Linked DNA regions of Homo sapiens: all the other regions are linked to region 3. Evidence: fine-mapped expression QTL. A gene starts in region 3. Each other region holds a variant in brackets. All regions are shown on one strand. Distances are from middle to middle. Region 1 has its middle 11 kb from the start of ATXN2L. Region 2 overlaps SH2B1 (SH2B adaptor protein 1). Region 3 holds the start of TUFM (Tu translation elongation factor, mitochondrial).

What was found. PIP is the estimated chance that this variant, and not a neighbour inherited with it, causes the effect.
Region 1: its variant is the best candidate, but not a certain one, in a credible set for the expression of TUFM in lung (TOPMed, PIP 0.70).
Region 2: its variant is the best candidate, but not a certain one, in a credible set for the expression of TUFM in fetal neocortex (Walker 2019, PIP 0.87).

The regions. Positions count from the first base shown.
Region 1 is chr16:28,806,951-28,816,723 of GRCh38, forward strand. It overlaps the pseudogene RPS15AP33. Among named protein-coding and RNA genes, the nearest start is that of ATXN2L, 11 kb to the right of the region's middle. The variant G/A (reference allele first, on the strand shown) is at 5,484.
Region 2 is chr16:28,866,578-28,876,350 of GRCh38, forward strand. SH2B1 (SH2B adaptor protein 1) reads left to right here. Exons shown (of 8, transcript NM_001387430.1): 1 at 1-456; 2 at 754-855; 3 at 2,429-2,520; 4 at 2,631-2,806; 5 at 5,203-5,406; 6 at 5,613-5,824; 7 at 5,957-6,128; 8 at 6,870-7,628. The coding sequence ends at 7,243. Among named protein-coding and RNA genes, the nearest start is that of ATP2A1, 7.0 kb to the right of the region's middle. RefSeq lists enhancers at 7,376-7,876, 7,877-8,377. The variant CGTGT/C (reference allele first, on the strand shown) is at 4,417.
Region 3 is chr16:28,841,366-28,851,138 of GRCh38, forward strand. TUFM (Tu translation elongation factor, mitochondrial) reads right to left here and starts at 4,983. Exons shown (of 10, transcript NM_003321.5): 1 at 4,853-4,983; 2 at 4,547-4,741; 3 at 3,949-4,115; 4 at 3,586-3,690; 5 at 3,333-3,497; 6 at 3,054-3,186; 7 at 2,865-2,969; 8 at 2,585-2,736; 9 at 2,371-2,490; 10 at 1,046-1,783. The coding sequence starts at 4,904. The coding sequence ends at 1,610. It overlaps MIR4721 (microRNA 4721), which reads right to left and starts at 2,642; the gene lies at 2,554-2,642. It also overlaps a transcript of SH2B1 not described here. RefSeq lists silencers at 478-635, 8,730-8,930 and an enhancer at 4,845-5,334.

The DNA of each region.
Region 1 (9,773 bases), 34 kb before region 3:
AACAACAACAACAAAGAAGAACCACACATAACCACTGCTATCAAACACTGAGAGGCTTTGTTAGCTAGCTTTTGAAGCAGTTTTGATAATATCTCTTAATAATTCAACCTAAAATTATAAGGCAAAACAGCACGTATATGTTTAACGTATGCTGCTGTAAAGTAACTTCATTGATGGTATATTGTTTGAATCACAAGCGATGTCAAGCTGCCTTATACACAGCCCATAATATCAAAGTTAAAACAAGGAGCAAGATGTCCATTCCCATATAGATTTTTAGGAGCTACATTTCCAATCTCAAACTGCAGTTCCAGTAGCATTTTTAGGACTTCAGTGAAATTGAGACACATCTCAAGTGATTAAACCATAATGTAGTGACATGCTAAAAGGCAGATAGCAAGAGAAAAATCCAATCCAAATAGATTTTTTTTTTTTTTTTTTTTGAGACACGGTCTTGCTCTGGTGCCCAGGCCAGAGTGCAGTGGCACCATCTCAGCTCACTGCAACTTCTACCTCCCAGGTTCAAATGATACTGAGCATCAAGTAGCTGGAATTACAGGCACACGCCACCAGGCCTGGCTGATTTTTTTGTATTTTCAGTAGAGAGGGGGGTTTTGCCGTGTTGCCTAGGCTGGTCTGGGACTCCTGGCCTCGAGTGATCCACCTACCTCGGCCTCCCAAAGTGCTGGGATTAAGTGAGCCACCGCACCTGGCCAGAGTCCAAATAGAATTCTATAAATGCCTTTCAAATGATGAATGTGCTCGTGACATCATATGCTTGTGGATTGCTATCTGTATTTGGCAATACCTATCTTCAGGAAAAACTATTTTTGCCAAATCTCATTACAGATTAGAATTAACAGATAAACATTTGTCATAGACTTTGATGATAGGGAACACTAACTTTGTTCTTTTTTTTTTTTTTTTTTTCTGAGATAGAGTCTCGCTCTGTCACCCAGGGTGGAGTGCAGTGGTGTGATCTCGGCTCACTGCCACCTCTGCCTCCTGAGTTCAGGCAATTCACATGCCTGAGCCTCTCCAGTAGCTGGGATTACAGGCATGCGCCACCATGTCTGGGTAATTTTTGTATTTTTAGTAGAGTCTGGGTTTTGCCATGTTGGTCAGTCTGGTCTCAAACTCCTGGCCTCAAGTGATCTGCCCGCCTCGGCCTCCCAAAGTGCTGGAATTACAGGCGTGAGCCACTGTGCCCTGCCATAATATACTACTTTTTATCTGTTGTCCTACAACACCTAAAATATTTACTATTTGGCCCTTTACAAAAAACATTTGCCAACCCCTGCTCTAGAAAATGCAAATCAGGTCAGGCATGGTGGCTCACACCTATAATCCCAGCACTTTGGGAGTCTGAGGTAGGCAGATCACCTGAGCTCAGGAGTTCGAGACCAGCCTGGCCAATGTGGTGAAACCCCGTTTCTACTAAAAATACAAAAATTACCTGGGTGTGGTAGTGGGTGCCTGTAATCCCAGCCACTTGGGAGGCTGAGGCAGGAGAATTGCTTGAACCTGGGAGGCGGAGGTTGCAGTGAGCTGAGACTGCACCATTGCACTCCAGCCTGGGTGACAAGAGCAAAACTCCATCTCAAAAAGAAAAAAAGAAAATGCAAATCAACCTATCGTGACAGAAAGCAGATCAGTGGTTTCTTGGGTATGAGGGGTCAGAGAGAGGCAGGTGGGAGAGATTACAGTCACAAGGAGACTTCTGCGTGATGCATACCTTCGCTATCATGATTGTGGTAATGACTTCACGGCTATAGATATAAAATATATGTCAAAACATCAAATTCTGGCTGGACACAGTGGCTTATGCCTGTAATCCCAGCACTTTGGGAGGCTGTGGCAGGAAGATTTGCTTGAGGCCAGGTGTTTGAGACTAGCTTGGGCAATATTGTGAGACCATGTCTCCACCAAAAAAAGGTTTTTTTGGTTTTTTTTTTTTAATTAGCTGGGCATGGTTGTGCACACTTGTAGTCCCAGCTACTCTGAAGGCTGAGGTGGGAGGATGGTTTGAGCCCAGGAGTCCGAGGCTGCAGTGAGCTATAATTGCACCAGCGCACTCCAGCCTGAGCAACAGAGCAAGACCTTGTTAAAAATAAATAAATAAATAAGCTGCGCGCAGTGGCTCACACCTGTAATCCCAGCACTTTGGGAGGCTGAGGCAGGTAGATCACCTGAGGTCAGGAGTTCGAGACCAGCCCGGCCAACATGGTGAAACCCCATCTCTACTAAAAATACAAAAATTAGCCAGGTGTGGTGGCGTGCATCTGTAATCCCAGCTACTCGGGAGGCTGAGGGAGGAGAATTGCTTGAGCCCGGGAGGCAGAGGTTGCAGTGAGCCAAGATCACACCACTGTACTTCTGCCTGGTTGACAGAGCAAGACTCCATCTCAAAAAAATAAACAAAAAACTTGCTCTAGTAGCCAAAAACCTAAGTTGAGTTGCCATAGTGAAGAGTTGTAGTCTCTCGCCTGAATTTTAGACCTAAGTCAGCATAGATCCAGAGTCACTTAATTGGAGAGAAGTTTGGTTCTCCCTGAGAGAGGAACATGCCCTGTTTACTAGAGTGTGCATCAGGGAGAAGAAAATACCCAACCTTTTGAGGATTCCTAGACATTGGCTCTGAATTAACGCCAAGTCCTGAGGATCCAAAATGCCACTGTGGCTCATCACTAAAAGTAGGGGCTTAAAGATAGATGGTCAGGTGCTAGATGGAGTCTTAGCTCAGCCCCAGCTCACAGAGGGCTCCGTTGATCTATGGTCCCACCCTGTGGTTATTTCCAAATTCCTGAGAGTATAATAGGAATAGCCATCTATGGCAACTGACAAATCTCCACACTGGCTCTCCCACCCATGGAGTGAGAGAATCATGGTGGAAAGGGCTAAGGGAAAGTCCCTGTAACTTCCACTTCCTGTCAAGACAGTTAACCAGAGGGCTGGGCGCAGTGGCTTACACCTGTAATCCCAGCACTTTGGGAGGCCAAGGCAGGCGGATCACGAGGTCAGGAGATTGAGACCATCCTGGCTAACACGGTGAAACCCCATCTCTACTACAAATACAAAAAATTAGCCAGGTGTGATGGCGGGCACCTGTAGTCCTAGCTACTCAAGAGGCTGAGGCAGGAGAATGGCGTGAACCCAGGAGGCAGAGGTTGCAGTGAGCCAAGATCATCCTACTGCACTCCAGCCTGGGCAACAGAGGGAGACTCTGTCTCAAAGAAAAAAAATTTTAAAAAGACAGTTAACCAGAAGCATTATCACATCCCTGGAGAGTCGCAGAGACTAGTGCCACCCTCAAAGACTTGCAAGGGGCCAGGTGGGGTGGCTCAGGCCTGTAATCCTAGCATTTTGGGAGGCCGAGGCGGGTGGATCACCTGACGTCAGGAGTTCGAGACCAACCTGGGCAACATGGTGAAACCCTATCTCTACTAAAAGTACAAAAATTAGCCGAGTGTGGTGGCAGGTGCCTGTAATCCTGGCTACTCAGGATGCTGAGGCAGAAGAATCGCTTGAACCTGGGAGGCAGAGGCTTCTGAGCTGAGATCATACCACTGTACTCCAGCCTAGGCAAAAGAGCGAAACTGTGTCAAAAAAAAAAGACTTGAATGGGCAGGCGTTTGGCATATGCTGGTTGGATGGATCTTAGAGAATGACTGTGGACTATGGGAAACTCATTTAGATGGTGACTCCAATTGCAGCTGCTGCCTCACATGTGGTATCTTTAGACAGCAGAAGAAATCAACATGACCCCTAGTGTGGTGCAATGATGTATTAAAGACTCAGTTAAGGCAAGATGTGGTGGCTTACACCTGTAATCCCAGCACTTTGGGAGGCCAAATCACTTGAGGTCAGGAGTTTGAGACCAGCCTGGCCAACATGTAAAACCCCATCTCCACTAAAAATACGAAAATTAGCCAGGCGTGGTGGCGCATGCCTGTAATACCAGCTACTCTGGAGGCTGAGGCAGGAGAATCACTTGAATCTGGGAGGTGAAGGTTGCAGTGAGCCGAGATCATGCCACTGCCCTCCAGCCTGGGCAACAGAGCAAGACTCTATCTCAAAAAAATAAAGACTCAGTTAAGGCACCACTTGAGAGACCACACCCCAGAAAGAATGGTTTGGGTTTTTTACCCCGCACAGAGGCTGGGATTCTTTTTTATAGCATGCACACTACTATCTTTTTTTTTTTTTTTTGAGACAGAGTCTCACTCCTGTTGCCCAGTCTAGAGCGCAATGGGGTGATCTCAGCCCACTGCAACCTCCACCTCCTTGGTTCAAGAGATACTGCTGCCTCAGCCTCCTGAGTAGCTAGGATTACAGGCATGCGCCACCACGCCTGGCTAATTTTGTATTTTAATAGAGACAGGATTTCTCCATGTTGGTCAGGCTGGTCTCGAACTCCTGATCGCGGGTGATGCGCCTGCCTTGGCCTCCCAAAGTGCTGGGATTGCAGGCGTGAGCCACCTCGCCCGGCCAACACTGCTGTCTTAATGAGAGACCATTATGTAGTGCTTTTTCTCTCATAGCCAGAATACAAGTCAGAATCAAGGAGAGATATTAGATCTCGTTCTTCTCGCTGTTTTTTTTTCTTTTCTTTTCTTTTTTGAGACAAAGTCTTGCTCTGTCGCCCAGGCTGGAGTGCAGTGGCGCGATCTCGGCTCGCTGCAAGCTCCGCCTCCCAGGTTCACGCCATTCTCCTGCCTCAGCCTCCAGAGTAGCTGGGACTACAGGCGCCCGCCACCACGCCCGGCTAATTTTTTTTGTGTTTTTAGTAGAGACGGGGTTTCACCGTGTTAGCAGGATGGTGTCCATCTCCTGACCTCATGATCCGCCCGCCTTGGCCTCCCAAAGTGCTGGGATTATAGGCGTGAGCCACTGTGCCTGGCCGTTTGTTTTTTTTTTTTTTTTTTTGAGACAAACTCTCACTCTGTCGCCCAGGCTGGAGTGTCATAGCTCACTGCAATCTCCGCCTTCCGGATTCAAGCGATTCTTGTGCCTCAGCCTCCCAAGTAGCTGACCGCCACGCCTAGCTAATTTTTTTTTTTTTTTTTTTTTTTGATGTTGTCTCGCTCTGTCGCCAGGATGGAATGCAGTGGCGCCATCTTGGCTCACTGCAGTCTGCCTCCCGGGTTCAAGCGATTCTCGTGCCTCAGCCTCCCGAGTAGCTGGGTTTACAGGCACGTACCACCACACCCAGCTAATTTTTTTTTTTGTACTTTTATGGGGTTTCACCAGGTTGGCCAGGATGGTCTTGATCTCCTGACCTCGTGATCCACCCATCTCGGCCTCCCAAAGTGCTGGGATTACAGGCGTGAGCCACTGTGCCCAGCTGACGCCTGGCTAATTTTTTTTTTTTTTGAGATGGAGTTTCACTCTTGTCCCCGGGGCTGGAGTGCAATGGCGCTATCTTGGCTCACTGCAACCTCTGCCTCCCGGGTTCAAGTGATTCTCCTGCCTCAGCCTCCTGA[G/A]TAGCTGGGATTACAGGCATGCGCCACCACGCCAGGCTAATTTTTGTATTTTTAGTACAGAGAGGATTTCACCATGTTGGTTAGGCTGGTCTTGAACCCCTGACCTCGTGATCCAACCTCCTTGGCCTCCCAAAGTGTTGGGATTACAGGCATGAGCCACCGCGTCTGGCCACCAAGCTAATTTTTGCATTTTTAGTAGAGATGGGGTTTCGCCATGTTGGTCAGGCTGGTCTCAAACTCCTGGCCTCTAGTAATCTGACTGTCTCAGCCTCCCATAGTGCTGGGATTACAGGTGTGAGCCACCACACCTGATCAAAAAATTGTTTGTTAAAGACAAAGTCTTATTCTGTCACCCAGCCTGGAGTACAGTGGTGCAATTATGGCTCACTGCAGCCTTGAACTTCTGGGCTTGAGCAATCCTCCTGCCTCAGCCTCCCAAGTAGCTAGGACTACAGGTGCGTGCCACCACACCTGGCTAATTTTTGTATTTCTTTTTGTTTGGTGGGGGCGTGGACAGGTTCTGGCCATGTTGCCCAGGCTGTTGTCAAACTCCTGCCCTCAAACCATCCTCCCACCTCGCCCAGTCTCACTATTCTACCAAATAACCCACTTGCAGATTTTTTGTTTCCTGTCTTGGTAAGTTTGAGCTCTGCTGACTTGGAAGACTTAGTCCTCAAGGGAGGAATTCTTCCATCAGGGACACAACAATGATACCATTGAATTGGAAAATGAGACTGCCACCTGGTCATGTTGGACTTTTTAGGCCACTGAACCAACCGCAGAAAATGGGGTTACTCTACTGGCTGGAGTTATTGATCCTTATGACCAGGAGGAAACTGGGTTGCTGCCACACCATGGGGGTAAGGATGGTGTGTCTGAATCCCGGGTTTCTCTGGAGTGCCTCTTACTATTTCTATGCCCAATAATACATGTTACTGAAAAACTGTGGTAACTAAAAGAAGGCAGGACAATGCGGACCCTTTAGGAATGAAGCTTTGCCTCATCCTACCAGGTAAAAAGCCCAATTATCGGAGCCCAAGGATTTTTGGATACTTACAGAAGGGAACATAGTTACCAATTATGGGCTCATGACCAATTACAGAACTGAGGATCTTGGAAGCTTGTCATATTTCCTTTTTGCTTTTTTTTTTTTTTTTTTTTGAGATGGACTCTCACTCTGTCGCCCAGGCTGGAGTTCAGTGGCTCAATCTCAGCTCACTACAACCTCTGCCTCCCGGGTTCAAGCAATTCTCCTGCCTCAGCCTCCCGAGTAGCTGGGATTACAGGCATGTGCCACCATGCTTGGCTAATTTCTGTATTTTTTAGTAGAGATGGAGTTTCACCATGTTGGCCAGGCTGGTCTCAAACTCCTGACCTCAAGTGATCCGCCCGTCTTGGCCTCCCAAAGTCCTGAGATTACAGGCGTGAGCCACCGCACCTGGCCCCTTTTTGCATAATATATTCATGTCTTTATTTGTACATGCTAGCCATCTTTTTTTTTTTATTTGGTCCATAGGCATTTTATTTGTAAATATGTGTTACATCTCTAGAAAAAGAGTCCCAGGATTTTCCTTCCTGTGTGTTTTCGTCTTGCTTCTTCATGGTCCATGATGCCAGCTGAGGTGGTCAGTACAATGAAACCAAACTGGCGGGATGGAAGCAGATCATTCTGCTATTTTTCTAGATCTTTGCACATCAAATCTGGGGCTGATCCCACGTTTAGCCTGCCTGTGAGGTTTACAGTAATTTTCCCAGCTGTGTGATCATCAGTGATTTCAAATTCGCCAATGTAACCATGCTTCATCATCACAGTTAGAAACTGGACGATGACTTTGGAGAATGGCCTAATAGGTACCTGGCATTTTGCCTCTCTTTTTGGCATTGTTGATGTTCTATTTTTTTTTTTTTTCTTTTTGAGACGGAGTCTCCCTCTTTCACCAGGCTGGAGCGCAATGGTGCGATCTCGGCTCACTGCAACCTTTGCCTCCCGGGTTCAAGCGATTCTCCTGCCCCTGCCTCCCGCGTAGCTAGGATTACAGGCGTGCGCCACCACGCCCAGCTAAGTTTTGTATTTTTAGTAGAGACAGGATTTCACCATGTTGGCCAGGATGTTCTTGATCTCTTGACCTCATGATCTGCCTGCCTCAGCCTCCCAAAGTGCTGGGATTACAAGCATGAGCCATAGCACCCAGCCTGTCAATGTTCTTGAGAGCATCAGCCGGGACAGTCATATGCGCCATTTTGGTGGCAGGGGAAGATGGAGGAAAGAGCTTTCTTTTTTTTCTCTCCTCGTTCTTATTTTTTATACAAGTTATTGGAGGTTAGCTCTACAATTCGGCCTTTAGGTAGCAGAACATTCAAGACTATGACTTAATTTGAGGAGTAATTAAAATAGCCAGCAACTGGTGCAATGATCATTATGACAGTGAGTCTCATTTTGGAGAAACAGTGAGAACTTTCCTTGTATGAAAGATAACTATCTCTTTTTTTAGTTTTTTATTTTTATTTTTTGTGGGAACGTAGTAAGTGTATATATTTACAAGGTACATGAGATATTTTGATACAGGCACACAATGCATAATAATCACATCAGGGTAAATGTGGTATCCAGCACCTCCTACGTTTATCCTTTGTGTTACAAAGAATCAAATTAAACTATTTTAGTTTAGGGTTTTTTGTTTGTTTGTTTGTTTGTTTTTTGAGACAGAGTTTCACTTTTGTCACCCAGTCTGGGGTGCAATGGCGCGATCTCGGTTCACTGCAATTTCTGCCTCTGGGTTCAAGCGATTCTCCTGCGTCAGGCTCCCAAGTAGCTGGGATTAAAGGCATGCACCACCACACCCAACTAATTTTGTATTTTTAGTAGAGATTTCTCCATGTTGGTTAGGCTGGTCTCAAACTCCCAACCTCAGGTGATGTGCCCACCTCAGCCTCCCAAAGTGCTGGGGTTACAGGCGTGAGCCACCATGATCAGCCTTTTTTTTTTTTTTTTGAGATGGAGTCTCACTCTGTCGCCCAGGCTGGAGTGCAGTGGTGAGATCCTGGCTCACGGCAACCTCTGCCTTCCAGGTTTTTTTGTTTGTTTGTTTGTTTGTTTGTTTTGAGACAGTCTTTCTCTGTTGCCCGGGCTGGAGGGCAATGGTGCAATCTCGGCTCACTGCAACCTCCACCTTGCGTGTTCAAGCGATTCTCCTGCCTCAGCCTCCTGAGTAGATGGGATTACAGTCGTGCACCACCATGCCTGGCTAATTTTTGTATTTTAAGTAGAGACGGGGGTTTCACCATGTTGGTCAGGCTGGTCTCGAACTCCTGACCTCATGATCCACCTGCCTTGGCCTCCCAAAGTGCTGGGATTACAGGCGTGAGCCACCACACCCAGCCTCTGCCTTCCAGGTTTAAGCAATTCTCCTGTCTCAGCCTCCCGAGTAGCTGGGATTACAGGCACCCACCACCACACCTGGCTGAGTTTTGTATTTTTAGTAGAGACGGGGTTTCACCATGTGGGCCAGGCTGGTCTCGAACTCCTGACCTCAAGTGATCCACCTGCCTTGGCCTCCCAAAGTGCTGGGATGACAGGCGTGAGCCACCACGCCTGGCCCTCTTTTAGTTATTTTTAAATGTACAATAAATTATTGTTGACTGTAGTCACCCTGTTGTGCTATCAAGTAATTTTTTTAATCCTTTTCTTTTTTTTTTTGACAGGGTCTCTCTGTGTTACTCAGGCTGGAGTGCAGTGGCGTGATTTCTGCTCACTGCAGCCTTGACCTCCCAGCAGGCTCAAGCAATCCTCCTGCCTCATCCTCCCGAGTAGCTGGGACTACAGGCATGTGCCACCACGCCCAGCTAAGATCTTTTTTAAAATGCTTAATCCAGAAGTCATTACAAACAAATACTAGATCTTATTTATTCTATCTAACTATATCTCTGTACCCATTAACCATTCTGCCTTCCCTGCCTCCATTACCCTTCCCAATCTCTGGTAAACATCCTTCTACTCTCTGTCTCCAGGAGTTCAACTGTTTTTCATTTTTGGCTCCCACAAATAAGTGAAAACTTTTGAAGCTTGTCTCTGTGCCCACCTTATTTCACTTAGCATCATGACCTCGAGTTCCATTCATGTTGTCACATATGACAGGATCTCATTCTTTTTTATGGCTGAATAGTACTCCATTATATATATGTACCACATTTTCTTTATCCATTCATCTGTTTGTTGGGGTTTTTTTCTGTTTTTGTTTTGAGATGGAGTCTCCACCTGTCGCACAGGCTGGAGTGCAGTGGCATGATCTC
Region 2 (9,773 bases), 25 kb after region 3:
GTCCGAGGCTCAGTCCGTGGCATCCTGCAGTGGCGGGGGACCGTTGACCCTCCCTCCTCCGCTGGGCCCCTGGAGACCTCGTCAGGCCCCCCAGTCTTAGGTGGAAACAGCAACTCCAACTCCTCTGGCGGGGCTGGGACCGTTGGTAGGGGACTGGTCAGTGATGGAACGTCCCCTGGGGAAAGATGGACTCACCGTTTTGAGAGGCTGAGACTCAGTCGGGGAGGGGGCGCCTTGAAGGATGGAGCAGGGATGGTGCAGAGGGAAGAGCTGCTGAGTTTCATGGGGGCTGAGGAGGCAGCCCCTGACCCAGCCGGAGTGGGCCGGGGAGGAGGGGTGGCTGGGCCTCCTTCAGGGGGAGGAGGGCAGCCTCAGTGGCAGAAGTGTCGCCTGCTGCTTCGAAGTGAAGGAGAAGGAGGAGGAGGAAGTCGCCTGGAGTTCTTTGTACCACCCAAGGTGAGGCCCCTTGGAGGGTGGGTGACTGAGAGCAAGTGAGAGAGTGCTCAGAGTGGTCACAGCCCTGCAGATAAGCTCTGGGGTTTACCAGCCCATGGCCCTGGTGTCGCTCACTTTTTGTTGGTAAAGCTGGCTCTTGGCTCTGTGTTAGCAGCTGCGGGCAGGACTGAGAAAGCAGTGTGACTGCCTTTTGTCTAACTTCCCGAGGATGTAGAAGGAAAGATGAATGTCTGGAGGGAGGGGAAGAGTGGTCTTTGGAAACCAAACACCCAGATCTGTTTCTTTCTCCTGACTTAGGCCTCTCGGCCCCGACTCAGCATCCCCTGCTCTTCTATCACAGACGTCCGGACAACCACAGCCCTGGAGATGCCTGACCGGGAGAACACGTTTGTGGTTAAGGTAGGAATTCAACTTCCCAGCCGCCGGCAGTGCTTGTGTTAAGGAGAAAGCCCTCAGCGCATTTAAGCAAGTGGCGTCGCCGAAAGGAGGTATATATATGTGTCCAGTGCCTTGAGAGTGTGTCCCTGGGGCTGCAGCTTTTCTGGGATAGCGGAAGACAGGGAAATGTTCTTACTCTCAAAAACAATGCCTCCACTTGAAAGAGAACTGTGGAGTTTTTGTTGTTGTGGTTGTTTTAGAGAGACAGGGTCTCCCTCTAAGTCAGGAGTGCAGCAACCTGATCATAGCTCACTGTAGCCTCGTGTAGCCTCGAACTCCTGGGCTCAAGTGATCGTCCTGCCTCAGCCCTCTAAGGAGCTGGGACTACAGGCATGTGACACCATGCCTGGCTAATTTTGTTACTTACTTACATTTGAGATAGAGCCTTGCTCTGCCGCACAGGCTGGAGTGCAGCGGCGCGATCTTGGCTCACTGCAACCTCTGCCTCCCAGGTTCAAGCGATTCTTGTGCCTCAGCCTCCTGAGTAGTTGGGATTACAGGCATGCACCACTATGCCCAGCTAATTTTTTGTATGTTTAGCAGAAATGGGTTTTGCCATGTTCGGCAGGCTGGTCTCAAACTGGCCTCAAGTGATCCACCCCACTTGGCCTCCCAAAGTGTTGGGATCACAGGCGTGAGCCACTGTGCCTGGCCTTATTTTATTTTATTATTTATTTATTTTTTTTGAGACAGAGTCTCGCTCTGTCGCCCAGGCTGGAGTGCAGTGGCGCGATCTCGACTCACTGCAAGCTCCACCTCCCGGGTTCATGCCATTTTCCTGCCTCAGCCTCCCGAGTAGCTGGGACTACTGGCGTCCGCCACCACGCCCGGATAATTTTTTTGTATTTTTAGTAGAGACGGGGTTTCACCAAGTTAGCTAGGATGGTCTCGATCTCCTGACCTCGTGATTTGCCCGCCTCAGCCTCCCAAAGTGCTGGGATTATAGGCGTGAGCCACTGCGCCTGGCCTATTTTATTTTATTTTATTTTTATTTTTTATATTTTTGAGACGGCATTTTACTCTGTCTCCCAGGCTGGAGTTGAAGTGGCATGATCTTGGCTCACTGCAACCTCCGCCTCCCGGGTTCAAGCGATTCTCCTGTCTCAGCCTCTCGAGTAGCTGGGACTACAGGCGCCTGCCACCACGCCTGGCTAATTTTTGTTTTTAGTAGAGACAGGGTTTCACCACATTGGTCATGTTGGTCTCGAACTCTTGACCTTGTGATCCACCCTCCTTGGCCTCTCAAAGTGCTGGGATTACAGGTGTGAGCCATCGTACCCGGCCTCGCCTTATTTTATTTTTCAATTTTTTTAGAGACAGGTTCTCACTATGTTGCCCAGACTGGTCCAACTCCTGGGCTCAAGTGATCCTCCAGAGGTGCTGGGATTACAGGTGTGAGCCTCTGTACCCGGCCTCCAGAGAGAATTCGAATGCATCTTGTTTGTAGACAGCCTGCATACATTGTTCTCATTAGGCATGGATTAAGCCTCCTCCCTGCCCCTGCCCCAGCTGAGGCGTCGTCTCATCTCTGTAGGTGGAAGGTCCATCCGAGTATATCATGGAGACAGTGGATGCCCAGCATGTGAAGGCCTGGGTGTCTGACATCCAAGAATGCCTGAGCCCAGGGTGAGAAGCCTGACTTCTGTCGCTAAGGGACATAGAGTGGGGTTGGGGAGCAGCCTTGCGCCTCTCACCTGGTGACTTTCCTCCCAGCACCATCTTCCCTGTCTCTGCAGACCCTGCCCTGCTACCAGTCCCCGCCCCATGACCCTCCCTCTGGCCCCTGGGACCTCATTCCTTACAAGGGAGAACACAGACAGCCTGGAGCTGTCCTGCCTGAATCACTCGGAGAGTCTACCCAGCCAGGACCTGCTGCTTGGACCCAGCGAGAGCAATGACCGCCTGTCGCAGGGTAAGGGTGGAGCCTTAGAGAGCTCGGAGCCTCGGAACCTGCCATGCGGGGCCCCTGCTGTCAGGCGCCATGCCCTCTCCAGACGCCACTGTGCCCCCATCCCTGTTTTCCAGATGCCCTACCCCAACCCCACCAAATGTTGGTCTTTGATCCCTGAACACAGCCACAGTTTGCTGTTTAGAATAATCATGACCCCACGCAGGCCCCAAGCAAACCTTAGCCAGGCTTCTGCACCCAGCCTCGCCACTTTTTCAGTCAGCGTCCTGCCAGCCACCGCTCTGGCTGGAAATAATGGTGGTTTTCTCCAAGCTTCTGGAACACTTTGTAGAAATCTTTGTTTTGTTCTTACTCTGCATCTCTGTGTCTGTCAGGGGCAATCACGTTTTCTCTTGACTCTGTACTTTTTGGTCTGACCAAACACACATACCCGACCCACACACACAAACACACAAAGATGTGTCACCCAGTCCCAACTCATATTTCTAGATTCGGCCTCCACTATAGCCTTTTCTCCTGACCCTCTGTTCTGAGTTCCAGCTGCACAGTGCCTAGCACACAGGCTGTATTCAGTGAATGAACACATGAATCATGGAATCTTAGATCTAGAGTGGACCTTGCATCTCATCAGATCTTAGTAGCTAAGACCAGGGAGAGGACACCTGAGGGTCACTGAGGAAGACAGGGGCTGCGCCACCCTGTTTCCCAAGCCATGCTGTCTGTGCACCACACGCCTGTCTTCTGAGCACTGCCTGCCTATGACATTTGTGTAGGCAGTGGCCTGCTGTTGGACAGACTTGGAGGATGGCCCTAGTGCATACCTGGCCCTGCTCTGTGTCCCGGGCCAGGATGGGGTAGCTAGGATGCCTGAGATGAGCTCCTTGTTCTCTAGAGGCTTTCAGCTGGGTTGACATCACTCCCTATAGAAAGCTTAGTGTCCCCTGAGCAGCACAAGCAGGAATCACGTTGGGAGCTCAGGAGGAAGAGAGCAGGGGAAGGTGGGAGAGACAGGGACTGCGACGCCGAGGAGAGGAGAGGACATGCCTGGGGACGTGAAGGGCAAGAGCAGAGACCTGCGGGGAGGGCCCAGGATATGGGGACAAATTGGATGGGAAATTGGGTTAAAGTGGAAGAGACATGAATACAAGGTAAGGTAAAGCTCAAGTTGGTGTGGGTTGGGGGAGTAATAGAAGGAGCATCTTTGATGCCTCTTAAGAGTTAGGGGCTTTGTCCTATAGTTCAACAAAGGACACCTTTTTTTTTTTGTTTGTGTGTTTAATTTTTTTATTTTTAAAAAATTATTGTTTGTGTTTTTGTTTTTGAGATAGGGTCTTGTTATGTCTCCCAGGCTGGAGTGCAGTGGTGCAGTCACAGCTTCCTGCAGCCTTGACCTCCCTGGCTCAAGCCATCTTCCTGCGTCAGCGGCTTAAGGTGCTGGGACCACAGGCGTGTGCCACCACCACACCTAGCTAATTTTTTATTTTTTGTAAGAGATGGGGTCTCACCATGTTGCCCAAGTTGGTCTTGAACTCCTGGGCTCAAGTCATTCTCACACCTCAGCCTCCCAAAAGGCTGGGATTACAGGCGTGAGCCACTGTGTGCAGCCAGAATTC[CGTGT/C]GTGTGTGTGTGTGTGTGTGTGTGTGTGTGTGTGTTTTGAGACAGAGGCTTGCTCTGTCGCCCAGGCTGCAGTGCAGTGAAACAATCTCGGCTCACTGCAACCTCTGCCTCCCGGGTTCAAGCAATTCTTCTGCCTCAGCCTCCCAGGTAGCTAGGATTACAGGTGTGCACCACTACGTCCAGCTAATTTTTGTATTTTTAGTAGAGATGGTGTTTCACCATGTTGCCCAGGCTGCTCTCGAACTCCTAAGCTCAAGTGATCCTCCTGCCTCAACCTCCCAAAGTGCGGGTATTACAGGTGTGAGCCACTGCGCCTGGCCCAGGACTCCTTTTGAATGTCAAAATATTTGAGGCAGCTGGGCACGGTGGCTCACGCCTGTAATCCCAGAGCTGAGGTGGGCAGATCACTTGAGTCCAGGAACTCAGGGCCAACCTGGGCTATTATATAGCGAGACCCCTTCTCTACAAAAACATGTATATATATATTTAAGGCATTCTGCTCTCCGTTTCTGCAACAGTCTTTCAGCTGTTGATTCAGAAAAAGATGGAGACACATTGGGACTTTAGAACCTCCTTGCAATAACTCTGCAGTCCCTCAGCAGCGCAGGAAGCATCAGTTAGGAGCCATTGGTAAAAGCATCAGGGGTCACTACCCACAGAGCTGTTTGGCATCTTGGCCAGCGACTGCACACAGGGTAGACTGCTGGTGAGGAGATGGGCCCAGGACAGTCCTTTAGAAGAGGAATTTCTTGGGTTCTCAGCTTTGCCCTTTTTTTTTCCAGGGGCATATGGGGGCCTCTCAGACCGCCCCTCGGCATCCATCTCCCCCAGCTCTGCCTCCATTGCCGCCTCCCATTTTGACTCGATGGAACTGCTTCCCCCAGAGTTGCCCCCCCGCATCCCCATTGAAGAGGGACCCCCAACAGGGACAGTTCATCCCCTCTCAGCCCCCTACCCTCCCTTGGACACTCCGGAAACAGCCACAGGTACCGGAGGTGTGAGTGTGCATGTCTCCAGGCCTGGGTGCCTACCTTCCTGACCACCTCTCCTGGGATCCCGAGGGAGCTGGCCCAGGGGAGTTGGGGACGCATGTGGGGAGCAGGCGCCTTGAGGGGAAGGCAAGGCTTTTTTCTCCCAGGATGGGGGAGGCTGCCCTGACACCCCGGTTTCCCTCCCTCTCTCCTTCCTGAAGGGTCCTTCCTGTTCCAGGGGGAGCCAGAGGGCGGTGAGGGGGACCAGCCCCTCTCAGGGTATCCTTGGTTCCACGGGATGCTCTCTCGGCTCAAGGCTGCACAGTTGGTGCTGACTGGCGGCACTGGCTCCCACGGTGTCTTCCTGGTGCGCCAGAGTGAGACAAGGCGGGGTGAATACGTCCTCACCTTCAACTTCCAGGGCAAGGCCAAGGTGAGCCACCCTGTGGGAAAGGCTCTGTTCTGTGCATAGTTGGCAGTGGGGTGGGGGAGCACTGCCGGGGGAGGGGGTTTGTACCTGGCAGGGCCTTTGCCTCCTACCTCACCTCCCCCATCCCGCCCTCAGCACCTGCGTTTGTCGCTGAACGAGGAGGGTCAGTGCCGGGTCCAGCACCTGTGGTTCCAGTCCATTTTCGATATGCTCGAGCACTTCCGGGTGCACCCCATCCCTTTGGAGTCGGGAGGCTCCAGTGATGTTGTCCTTGTCAGCTATGTCCCATCCTCCCAGCGACAGCAGGGTGAGCAGAGCAGGTCTGCAGGGGAGGAGGTGCCCGTGCACCCAAGAAGTGAGGTGTGTGTGCCAGAAAGATGGGGCGGGGAGGGGGGACTATCACAAGGAGAAGCTTTGCTTGGGAGAGCAGGGTAGAGGAGGCTGTTGTGCCTCGGGGTTTGGAAGGGAAAGAAATGCGCTGATAGGACACAGGAAGGCAGAAGGCTCCTGGCCGGAGCCGGGGCGGCAGCTGAGAGGTGGGCGGGCGCATCCCCATTCCATCGGATCCTCTGTTCCATTGTCTGTCTGTCTCCTGGACCCATCCTGGCCTCGTCTTTGCCCTCCGTCGCAGCCTGGCCTTGGGCCTGCCCTTCCCGGGGACACTCGGTCTGATCCCCTTCCCTCCTCCCTCAATGTCTCATGTCCCTGTCTGATCTCTCCCTTTCCCCTGCCCCACCGTCCCATCTGTCCCCACGTTGCCCCTCCCCCCAGGCCGGGAGCAGGCTGGGAGCCATGCGGGGGTGTGCGAGGGAGATGGATGCCACCCCGATGCCTCCTGCACCCTCATGCCCTTCGGAGCGAGTGACTGTGTGTAAGTGTGGTCCTCCTCTCACCACCGCCCATGATCCATCTTCCATGGATGGGGGGTTGCTCAGGAGATGGGATGTGGGGAGACAGCCACGCTCCTGGGGGGCTGAGTGAAGGGGAGGCCACGGCAGGAGCTCACCTGCCTCCACAATCAGTCTGTTTTCTTACCATTCCTATCCAGAACCGACCACCTCCCATGACCCACCCCAGCCCCCTGAACCCCCTTCATGGACAGATCCCCCACAGCCTGGGGCAGAAGAGGCGTCGAGGGCGCCAGAAGTGGCGGCAGCAGCAGCCGCAGCAGCCAAAGAGAGGCAAGAGAAAGAGAAAGCGGGCGGTGGAGGGGTCCCGGAAGAGCTGGTCCCCGTGGTTGAGCTGGTCCCCGTGGTTGAATTGGAAGAGGCCATAGCCCCAGGCTCAGAGGCCCAGGGCGCTGGGTCTGGTGGGGACGCGGGGGTGCCCCCAATGGTGCAGCTGCAGCAGTCACCACTAGGGGGTGATGGAGAGGAAGGGGGCCACCCCAGGGCCATTAACAACCAGTACTCCTTCGTGTGAGCCAACCCCACCCGCTCCACCCTTTTTAAACCCCCCAGCCCTGCTCGTGAGATTGGGCTGGGTAGGGACAGAGGAGGCCGAAATCCCTCCCCCATGCTTCCTGACCCTTGTTGGCCAAGGGCATCTTTGATGGTACAAGCAGAGGCTCGGGAGAGGCTCCCGTCACACACTACAGGTCCCCTCCCCAGGGCAGGGGATTTGGGCTCCATGAGCTCCTTGAGGGGCTCTTCTGGTCAGCCCCACCCTGGGGGCCATTTCCCCATTAACTACCCCCAGCCCGAGGCAGGGTGAGGGGGAAGGGCTGTCAGTTACATTAAGGTGGTTGTTGTTGTTGTTTTAAACAAAATGGAGAAGCATAAATAAATAAAAAGGTTTATCTCGGTTCTATCGTGATGGCTATGGCCATTGTTTGCTGTGGGGACTGGGGACAGTTGGGTTGGGAAGGCAGCCCACTCAGTGCCCACAGGCCAGAGGGCTGGCCCAGGCCAGTCCCCATCATTCTGCAGTGCTGTGCTTTCGGAGCCATCCCTGTGTCTGACAGCCTTGTTCGTGGAGCACTAAATGATGCTCTTGGGGTCTCCTGCGAGTTTTTGTCATGGGACAGTGCTGTGAATGGCAGGCATGGTGATCTCCAGCGGCCCTTCCTGAGTTATGGCTTTGTACCCTAGAGAGAGCTGGCAGTGAGAGATGGGAGGCACGGTGGCTGTGCTGGAAGAGATTGAACGTGGCAGTCACAGGGTAGCCGCAGAGGGGCCCAATGGCCCCCTTCTCAAAGCCAGGCTGGAGGGATGGCAGAGGGCACTAGCTTCTGTCCTGGCCTTGCCACTCACTGGCCTGGGCAAGGTGTAGCCACGCCGGGCCTGAGCATCCTCATCTGTGACATGTGAAGTTTCATCTTGAGTCAGAGCTGCTGACATGGTTTGCTTGGCCTGGACATGGTGTCCATTTGAGTTTCACATTAAAAATTCAGATCACAGGCCAGGTGTGGTGGCTCACGCCTGTAATCCCAGCACTTTGGGAGGCCGACGTGGGTGGATCACCTGAGGTCAGGAGTTTGAGACCAGGCTGACCAATGTGGAGAAACCCCGTCTCTACTAAAAATACAAAAAATTAGCCGGGTGTGGTGGTGCGCGCCTGTAATACCAGCTACTCAGGAGGCTAAGGTAGGAGAATTGCTTGAGCCCAGGAGGTGGAGGTTGCTGTGAGCCAAGATCGCACCATTGCACTCCAACCTGGGCAACAGAGCGAGACTCTGTCTAAAAAAAAAAAAAAAAAAAAAAAAATCACTGGCTTCTCTTAAAAATCAGAAGATCCAGTGATGTGGGTCCACTTCCACATCTGCCCCATCCCCACCAGCTCACTTTGCTCCCTGGGAGGGCCTGGCCCTGTGGGCATTTGAGTTTATAACACCACCCCCATTGTGGCACACCCCTCCACCCCGTAAAACACAGGCTCTGCTCTTGGAATCAGTCTTCCTGATCTGTGGCTGTGCCCTCCAACAGAGGGCACCCCTGGGCTTCCCAGCTCTGGGGGTAGTGGGTGCCAACAAGGAGGGGCCTGGGGCTGAAGAATCCCACCCGCTGAGCTCGGCCTTCTCCCTTCCCCACTGTCCAGCTCCGCCTTTCAGCATCCTGCCTCACTCCCCGCCCAGGCAGCAAGGAGCCCACACCCTCATGCCCCTCAGCTTCAGCCCCCACCTCCAGGAGGCCCTACCCACGCTCATGACCTTGCTATTCTGGGCCTTGTGTCCTGTAGGGAGATGGACAGGAGACAGCTGGGCTTCCAGGCCACCCAGGCGGGGGGCTAGCCGAGGGAAGCCTGCTGGCTCTCCTGCTTGCTCTAATTTCTGGGGCTCCCCAAACCTTGGCCTCAGGAGACTGGGGATAGGACCGGCCTTGAAAGTGGGGGAAGCTTTGGAGAGCCGGGTGCTGGGTTCTTAGTGAGATGGCCAGTGAAGGCTGTGGTGCCCCGAGGTAAGCAGGGCCTGATCCCCTCCTAATCTTCCAGCAGCAACTGGTGCTCTGAGGCTCCCCCTCCCCCAGCCCTGCCAGCCTTCAGGGACCTGCCTTCCAAAGATGGGCAGGGGAGGGGGACGAGGACACCCACCCACTCCTCAGACCAGCATGTCTTGGCTGTTGGGGCCTGAGAGACTTTCCCTCTAAGCCTTTCTTTACAGATGGTTAAACCGAAGTTCTGCACTCATCAGGGACTGGCCAGGGTGTCTCTGTGTCCCATGCTTTTAGCTCCAGCCCTCAGGTGTGACAGGAGGATCACTTTCCATCCCTGGGCGTGGAGACCCCTGTGGGAAGGGATCCCCGAGGGCGCCTCTGGCTCAGCCTCCCTCCATGGCAGTTCACACCCACAGCCTTCCCTAGAGCAGCCCTTCTGCAGCTCCTGGCGGGTGGCTTTCCCTCCCTGGCTTGTTTCCCCCTCTGGGAAGCCGGGGGAGGTAGAAATGAATAACCTTAAAGGCCTGTTGGCAGGAATGTGCTGCCAAGCCTGCCCCCTGCCCTCTGTCTCAGGCTCTCGA
Region 3 (9,773 bases):
AATCAAGTTTTCTTAGACATTACACACTTAATAAGTTGACCCTTAAGTGATTGGGGTTCAAACTGCACAGATCCACTTACATGTGAATTTTTTCAAATACAAGTTACACCGAGTCTGCCTGTCTCCCCTTTGGCCTCCTCCTAAGAAACGTGAAGACAATGAGGGCCTTTATGATGATCCACTTCCACTTGATAGTGAATATATTTTCCTTATGATTTTCTTAACACCTTCTCTAGTTTTATTGTTTTTTTGTTTTTTTTTGAGATAGAGTCTCGCTCTGTCACCCAGGCTGGAGTGCAGTGGCGCGATCTCAGCTCACCGCAACCTCCGCCTCCTGGATTCAAGCAATTCTCCTGCCTCAGCCTCCTGAGTAGCTGGAATTACAGGCATGTGCCACCACACCCGGCTAATTTTTTTGTATTTTTAGTAGAGACAGGGTTTCACCATGTTGGCCAGGCTGGTCTCGAACTCCTGACCTTGTGATCCACCCACCTCAATCTCCCAAAGTGCTGGGATTACAGGCGTGAGCCACCGCGCCCGGCCACTCTCTAGTTTTAAGAATACAGTATATAATACATATAACACACAAAGTATGTGTTTGTATGCTATCAGCGAGGCTTCTGGCCAGCAGCAGGTTACTAGTTACATTTTGGGGGAGTCAAGTTATATGTGAGGAGCCAGACACGGTAGCTTACACCTCTAATCCCAGCAGTTGGGGAGACCAAGGTTGAGCCCAGGAGTCCAAGGCTGCAGTGAGCTAGGATGGTGCCACCGCACCCAGCCTGGGTGACAGTGAGACCCTATATCTCTTTTTTTCCCTTTGTTCAGCCTCCCCATAGAGACCGTCGAAAATTGCCAATGCTGATTATATTTCAAGTCATCATGGAGTCATTGGCTATGATACTGCCACTGCACAAAGCTGGCCCCATCTCAAAAACAAGTTATATGTGGATTTGTGGCTGCATGGAGGAGGGCTGACACCCCTAACCCCTGCATTGTTCAAGGGTCAACTATAATATAAACATAACTTCACTGAGAAATCAAAAAATTTGTGACCTGCTTTATTGTGGTAGTCTGGAAGCAAACCTACAGCATCTGAGGTATGCCTGTCCAGTCCCTGTTCCCACAGAATGTGAATGGATGCTAGACATTCACTTAGTATTCCGAGGAAACAAGATGGGTTTGGCACCTGAGCTGAAGCCATGCTGGCTCCAGAGCGATAGAACATTCTTTCCCACTATCTCCCAGGAGGCTGAATAACGGCATCCTACTGTGTCTAGGCAATCACTAAGCTCACTGGACTTGATTTATCCGTTAAAACTGCTCTGGGATCTCACAAGCTCCCCATCTGTCTGGGGTTCAACACCCTTTTTGTCCTCCCCTATCCTCTCCAATTTGCACAAAGGACACAGGACACAGGCTGGCTTACTATTCAAAGTTTACTGACCTCCCCAGCCAGGCAGGCCAACCCTTCCGAGCAGGGGAAATGTCCATCTAGCTGCCCTCTGCTGGGTTGCAGCCTATGCCATGAGAGGGTACTGGAAGCAGGAGGGAGCCCTGGCTAGGGCAGGCCTTAAACGCAAGGGAAGCTGAGCAGAGATCTGCACACTCAACCCCATTTGATATTCTTCTCCTCCTCAGTCATGGCCAGCGTGTTGGTGACTAGACCGGTGCCAATAGTCCGGTTGCCATCTCGCAGGGTGAAACGCTGGCCTTTCTCTAAGATCATTGGCTGCCGCAAGATTAGGTTGAACTTCAGGTCCTCCCCGGGCATGGCAAGCTCCTAGAGTAGGAAGAGAAGGATCATGCGTGGCCTCCAGGGTGCCTTCATTCCTTAAGTCTTTTTTGGCTACCTCGGAGGTTAAGAGTCATGGGAGAATGCAGCAGGGGAATGGTTCTGCCTGGGGACAGCTTCATCCATCCCAGGCTGTCAGGCAGATGCAAACAGCATATTGAGACAGGAAAACATAAAAGAGACCAGTGATGAGTGTTCCTAAGGTATGTTCTTGAGAAAAAAATGTCTAGGAAGTTGTGGGTTATGCAGGTTTCTTGGTCACAGAACTTCTTAAGCCTTCATATATAATGAAACGCTCAAAAAGAAGAGACCTTTTCTAGGAAATCTTTCTGTGGGTACATGCTGGCAGAGCTAAACTTTTAACCTGCTTCAGCTTAGGGCACACTGGATGAGGACTCCCGCCCCTAAGTCCATGGGCCATGCCCCTTCTGTTGGCTAGCAGCGGCAAGCAGCCCCTTTCCACCTAAGGAAATAAAGCCACTCGGGTTGTCACAGTGTATCTTTGGAACTATGAGTGAAGCAAAGGTAATATAAAAAGTCCCCCCTCCACCCTACATTCCTCCCACCCACCGTACCTTCTCTGGGGGCAGGATAATCCGACAGGCCATGTCCCAAGTCAGGGAGAACATGACAGGCATGAAGTGGGACACAAAGGGCTTGTGGCGGCCACCTTCCTCCTTGCTGAGGATGTAAACCTGGAGGAGAGCAAGCAATGACGGTGAGCTGGGCTTGGCTGGAGGCTGGGGAGAGCTTGGCTCAACCCTGCCCACCGTCACCTGGAGCCCTCACCTGGGCCTCCACCTTCTGGTGGGGCTTGATGGAACCTGGCTTGACCATGACCAGGCCCCGCCGCAAGTCCTCCCGCTTCAAGCCTCGGACCAGGGCCCCGAGGTTATCTCCGGCCTCGGCCCTCTCCAGGCTCTTGTGGAACATCTCAATGCCTAGGACGGAAAGGGAAAAGGAGCAGGGAGAAGGAAGGCGAATGTGAGACAGAGGGAAGGCACAAGGGATCTGCCGGGGTAAGGCCACCCTTCAGCCAGGCCCTGCTCTCCAGACTGGCTTCCCAAACCTGTCACCACAGTGCGGATGTTCTTGCTATGTCCTAGGAGCTCACACTCGTCTCCCTTCTTTAAAATGCCACGCTCTAGTGTACCTGTCACCACGGTGCCACGGCCTGGGAGGGAATAAGACAGGATATCAGGGACCCCGAGCTAGGCTTCTGCTAGAGAGAGTGCGTGGGAACAGACAGAGTCCTCACCAGGGACGGAGTACACCGCCTCCACAGGCAGCAGGAAAGGCTTCTCCAGGTCCCGGGCGGGCACTGGGATGTAAGTGTCCACAGCATCCAGTAGCTTCTGCACAGACTTCAGGCCTAACTCAGGGTCCCGACCCTGTTGAGGGGAAGTGCCAGGACTCTGAAATCCCCATTCTACTTCCCTCGATTATCAAGAGCCACTTCCCAGACACAAAGCAGAGCTCTGGGTGCCCATCCAGCCCCACCCTCTGCAGCAGCTGCCCTGCCTGACCCCGCGTTCACCTCAAGGGCACAGAGAGCAGAGCCTACGATGACTGGGGTCTCCTCCCCTTTATAGCCAAACTCGGTGAGCAGCTCCCGGATCTCCAGTTCCACCAGTTCCACCATCTCAGAGTCCTGGACAGCGTCAGCCTTGTTCACATACACCACCACATGCTCCACCCCAATCTGTAGATGCCAGAGAGACAGGGACAATATACAGAGGGGCCCAACTCCCCACTCTTCCCTTTTGCATCCTTACCCAGGCTCTGAGTACCTGTCTGGCCAGTAATAAGTGCTCTCGGGTCTGGGGCATGGGGCCGTCATTGGCTGCTACCACCAGGATGCAGCCGTCGAGGGGTGCAGTGCCTGTGATCATATTCTGGAGAGGAGAAGGAAAGGAAACAGCCAAGTTCAACGAGCTCTTCAGTTCACATCCATATAGCCAAGTGTAGCAGTTAGAAACTCAGGCCCACCTTTCTCTACCATCTCCTCACCACCCATTCTGCGTGGCCAAGACCACAAACCTGCCATCTCATACCCAAACACTGAATATCTTAATCTCCTCCCCACAAGCCTAACATTTATCCTGACAAGAGGCAGCTTCTGGCCCTGTCTCCAGTGTCCCAGCAACCCTCACCTTAACATAATCTGCATGACCCGGGCAGTCTGTGTGGGCGTAGTGGCGGGCGGCAGTGCTATACTCCACATGAGCCGCATTGATGGTGATACCCCGAGCTCGCTCCTCCGGGGCATTGTCAATCTCCTCGTACTTCTTGAACTTAGCCCCACCTCCCTCAGCTAGAACTAAAGGAGGAAAAGAACACACCTCTCAGCTAAAGTTCCAGTGCTAGAGGCAGAGCTTAGACCACGCCCCTGAACCCTCCCACCTAAATACATAACCTCCTCCAATCTCTAACTCTTCCAGCAGAGAGAACTGTGGGTCAGAAAGAAATGTTAGAGGGCCTTAAGGGTCTGCCCTGTGACTTCTTTAGGGTACAGCCTCTGCTTGCAGAGCATTCCCCACGACTTTGTGATCCCCAAGCCATTGGTGGATCACAAAGTTCTTCCTGTTCAGGAGAAATTTGTCTCTTGCATCTCCCAATCCACCTGTCGCACAAATTCGGGCTCTTGGGGCCACAGTAAACTCCTCCAGCAGACACTCTGCTGGCCTTGCCTCCCTGGCTCCAGGTCCCATCAGTAGATAGGGCGCTGCTGGACGCCCCAACCCCACTCACTCTTCGTGATGGCTGCAGTCAGCGTGGTCTTCCCGTGGTCCACATGGCCGATGGTACCCACATTCACATGTGGCTTGTCGCGCACGTAAGTCTTCTTGGCCTCCACGGCCAGGCCGCGGCACAAGAGAGGCAATGCCGGGGCTTTCAGCAGCCGCAACAGACCCTGCAGCAGGAAGGTCCGGCCGGCGGCGAGACCTGCCGGGACCGAAGCTTGGAGTCAGGCAGGGAAGGGGTCAGACCGAACCCAGCCACCTACCACTCCCCCAAAGTGTTCCTGGGCCGCCATCGCCCTCCCTGACCACTCACCGCTGAAGTGGGGCGTCGCGCGCAGCAGGGTGGCGGCCGCCATTGTGGTCATACTCGCGCCCCGGTAACCGGGGAGCCGGGACCAGGAGCCCGAGCGCACAGAAGAAGAAGGGCGCCTGCGGCTGGAAGGCACTTCCGGCGGAAGTTAGAGCTGGGAGGGCAAGTCCGGGCCCCTCTAGCCGCCAGTGTCTATGGCCGTCTCAGCCGACGTCGGGCGCGCGGCTGAAGACGTCATGGAGGGGGCTGGTGTCTCGAGGGCGGAGTATGATGGAGAGGTTTTCCACCACTCGCGCCTCTCGGGCTGAGGGGCAACGTAGTTCTCTCTGGCGGTCGCAGGGGGCACTGAGGAGCGTCCCCTAAATCACCGGCGCCGCGAAGGCTCATGGGCGTAGTAGTTCTCAGGTCGGCGGGCTGTGGAGGTGATCAGAGTGGGAGTCAGGCGGGCTAGGCCGGACCCGGAGGGAGGGGCTCGGGCTCCGGGAGGCAGCTGCGGCTCCGACTGCTCAGGAACCTCCTCCTGGGCCCGGCAGAGAGAGACCCCGAGTCCCCCGGAGTCCGACTCGCTACGCGGGTCTTGCGAGATATCTGGCCGCCTCTGCCGCAGCTGGAGGTAGGGGACCAGGTCCTGGACGCCTTTCGGGGATGGGGTGAAGTGTGACCTCCCTCTTCGCTGAGACTTTGTTTTCTAATCTGTAAAATGGGAATAGTAGTATCCACTTCATAGGGAGAGCCTGACATCTAGCCCTGAGAGGAGATGAACTGGGTAGGAGTCAGTGTTGGGCCCTGTGAGGTCAGGCAGCTTGCGGGGACCCTGTACTGCTAGACCTCACAGGGCCAGAGCCCACAAGACAGACAGCTTCGCTGCCCACCCCTGTAGTCCCTCAGCAGCCTAAGGAGCAGTTCCGTTGGGCATCGCCCCACCCATCTAATTTTGCAGATGAGGAGCCAAGGATGAGGAGCCAGCTAGGGGAGCCTTTAAGGGGAGCCTGAGTCTCCTTTAATCTGTCGGTGTCCCCAGCACCTAACAGGGTGGAGCATGCAGTGAATGTTGAATGAATGGGTGCAAGGGTAGTCAATGTCCCTTAACTTTCACATCCATCATCTCATGGCAGCTTCCACAGGGCACTCCAAAGTGTTAATTATGGCTGCTTAACCCTGGCTAATGTTTCGGAACTCATCAGATCCTGAGACTCAGTGGACAGTGTTTGTTTCAAATAGATTCCCTAATTCCTCCCCTGGAGGTTATGATTCCGTGGGGTCTATGCACAGACTGGGAAGCTATATAACAAACACTCTTCTAAAACTGAGAAGAGGCTGGGCACGGTGGCTATAGTGCCAGCCTATAGTCCCAGCAGTTTGGGAGGCTGAGGTGGGAGGACGGTTTGAAGCCAGGAGTTCAAGACCAGCCTGGGCAGATTAGGAGACCCTATCTCTACAAAAAAAAATTTAAAATTAGCCAGGCACAGTAGCATGCAGCTATAGCCCCTCCTACTCAGGAGGCCGAGGCAGGAGGATCGCCTGAGCTCAGGAGTTCAAGGCTGTGGTGAGGTATGATCATGACACTGCACCCCACCGTGAGTGACAGAGAAAGACCCCATCTTTTTTTTTTTTTTTTTTTTTTTTTTGGAGACAGAGTCTCACTCTGTCGCCCAGGCTGGAGTGCAATGGGGCGATCTCGGCTCACTGCAACCTCCACCTCCTGGGTTGAAGCAATTCTCCCACCTCAGCCTCCTGAGTAGCTGGGACTACAGGCATGTGCCACCACGCCTGGCTAATTTTAGTATTTTTAGTACAGATGGGGTTTCACCTCGTTGGCCAGACGGCTCTCGAACTCCAGACCTCAAGTGATCCGCCCATTGTGGCCTCCCAAAGTGCTGGGACTACAGGCGTGAGCTACCACGCTCAGCCAAGAAAGACCCCATCTCTATAAAAATATTTTGGCCAGGCGTGGTGGCTCACACCTGTAATCCTAGCACTTTGGGAGGCCGGGCGGGTGGATTGCTTGAGTTCAGGAGTTCGAGAACAGCCTGGGCAACACGGTGAAACTCTGTCTCTACTAAAATACAAAAAATTAGCTGGGCGTGGCAGTGTGCACCTGTAGTACCAGCTACTCAGGAGGCTGAGGCAGGATAATTGTTTGCACCCGGGAGGCGGAGCTTGCAGTGAGCTGAGATGGTGCCACTGCACTCCACCCTGGGCGACACAGCGAGACTCCGTCTCCAAAAAAAAAAATTTTTTTTCAAATGAAAACTCAGAGGAGTTTAGGAAACTCTGAACTAGAGCTTTATGATGTTCAGGCATTCCTATTGTTTCACAATCAGCGCTCCCAGTGCTACCCTGGGTAGTAGGAACTATTATTTCCTCCATTTTGCAGGTGTGAAAACTGACGGTCAGGGTGATTAAGGAATCCACCACCACTAAACCCCAAAAAGTGTGCACACCGCACTGTCCTTTTTTTTTTTTTTTTTTTTTTGAGACAGAGTCACACTCTGTTGCCCAGCTGGAGTGCAGTGACACGATCTCGGCTCACTGCAACCTCCATCTCCCAGGTTCAAGCGATTCTCCTGCCTCAGCCTCCCGAGTAGCTGGGATTACAGGCGCCTGCCACCACGCCCAGCTAATTTTTGTATTTTTAATAGAGACGGGGTTTCACCATATTGGCCAGGCTGGTCTTGAACTCCTGACCTCAAGTGATCCACCCACCTTGGCCTCCCAAAATGCTGGGATTATAGGTGTGAGCCACCATGCCCAGCCAGACTGTACTATAATTTAACTCTCATTTTACTGCTCAGATAAAGTGAGGAACTTGCTAAGACTTCTCTCTTCCTGGCCCTCCAGTTAATCAGTTCTGCTTAGGAAAGGCTGGTATCATGTGTAGTATAAACAGATTTTGTTTTTGTTTTTTTGACAGAGCCTTGCTGGGTCTCCTAGGCTGGAGCATAGTAGGGCAGTCACAGCTCACTGCAGCTTCAGCCTCCCAAGCTCAATCTACCTCAGCCTCCCAAATAGCTGGGATTACAAGCATACACCACCACACCTGGCTAATTTTTGTATTTTTTGTAGAGATGGGGTTTCGCCATGTTGGCCAGGCTGGTCTCCCAATACCGGGGCCCAAGCCGTCTGCCCACCTTGGCCTCTCAAAATGCTGGGATTACAGGCATGAGCCACTGTGCCCAGCCTAAAAGGGTTTTCTGTTTCTACTCTGTACCTAAGTCACTGTACTCCTAGGAATTTATCCTAAGACACTATTGGCCACTAGCAAGTTATGAGTTTTTGGGGGTGGTATTTGAATTAATGGTTTATATTTTTGTGGTGCTATATTTATTTTAATGTGTATTAGCTTGAAAAAAAACTGGCATAATAATCAAGTTTTTAAAAAAACAGATCAACTTAAAAGAATATTGTTTGGTAGATAATATTATGGATGCACTGGGCACAATGGCTCACACCTATAATCCCAGCACTTTGGGAGGTCGAGGCAGGCGGATCACTTGAGGCCAGGAGTTCGAGACCAGCCTGGCCAACATGGTGAAATCCCGTCTTTACTAAAAATACAAAATTACCTGGGCATGGTGCACGCCTGTAGTCTCAGCTACTCAGGAGGCTGAAGCAGGAGAATCGCTTGAACCCAGGAGGCGGAGGTTGCAGTGAGCCGATATCACGCCATTGTACTCCAGCCTGGGTGACAGAGCGAGACTCTGTCTCAAAAATAAAATAAAAACTATTATGTGTGGTATGAATATATGGCAAATTTTTTGGAAGGTAGTGAATGAATGGCTAGAGTTTGAGAAACACGGTGTTCGGAAAAGAGCCCAGAGAAAATTTTTTCTAGAGCTGTTGACCGTAGCATCCTCTGTATTAGTGAATGGCTCAGTCAGAAGTCTTGACTTACAGATAACAGATTTTACATTGGCTGGCTTAAGCAGAGGAGGGATTTGTTAAGGGTATTAGGCAGCTTACAGAATTGTGGGGCAAACTGGAGAACTAATTCCAAGCCATAGAACTGATTTGACCTGATAAGAAAACTGCTGTTACTGTCACTACCATCAAATGCTACATGCCAGGATATCAACTCGTCTGTTATAGCTACTGCCGGGGGCACTGAAACCACTTCTGCTATTGCTTGAGACCAGGAGTTCGAGACCAGCCTGGGCAAAATAGTGAGACCTTGTCTCTACAAACATAAAAATAAAAAAATTTGCCAGATATGGCAGCACATGCTTGTATAATCCCAGTTACTGGGGAGGCTGAGACAGGAAGATCACTTGAACCCAGGAGTTTGAGGCTGCAGTGAGCAATGATAGCACCACTGCACTCCAGCCTGTGTGACAGTGCCAGACCACGTCTCTAAAACAAAAAGGGCCAGGTGTGGTGGCTCACGCCTGTAATCCCAGAACTTTGGGACGCTAAGGTGGGCGGATCATGAGGTCAGGAGATCAAGACCATCATGGCTAATATGGTGAAACCCCACCTCTACTAAAAATACAAAAAATTAGCCAGGAGTGGTGGCACGTGCCTGTAGTCCCAGCTACTTGGGAGGCTGAAACAGGAGAATCGCTTGAACCCAGGAGGCAGAGGTTGCAGTGAGCCGAGAGTGCGCCACTGCACTCCAGCCTGGGCGACAGAGTGAGCGAGACTCCATCTGAAAAAAAAAAAAAAAAAGGAAATTAAAAAGGGCCGGACGTGGTGGCTCATGCCTGTAATCCCAGCACTTTGGGAGGCCAAGGCAGGTGGGTCACGAGGTCAAGAGATTGAGACCATCCTGGCCAATATGGTGAAACCCGTCTCTACTAAAAAAATACAAAAATTAGCTGGGCATGGTGGCGCTTGCCTGTAGTCCCAGCTACTCGGGAGGCTGAGGTGGGAGACTCGCTCGAACCTGGGAGGTGGAGGTTGCAGTGTGCCGAGATTGCGCCACTGC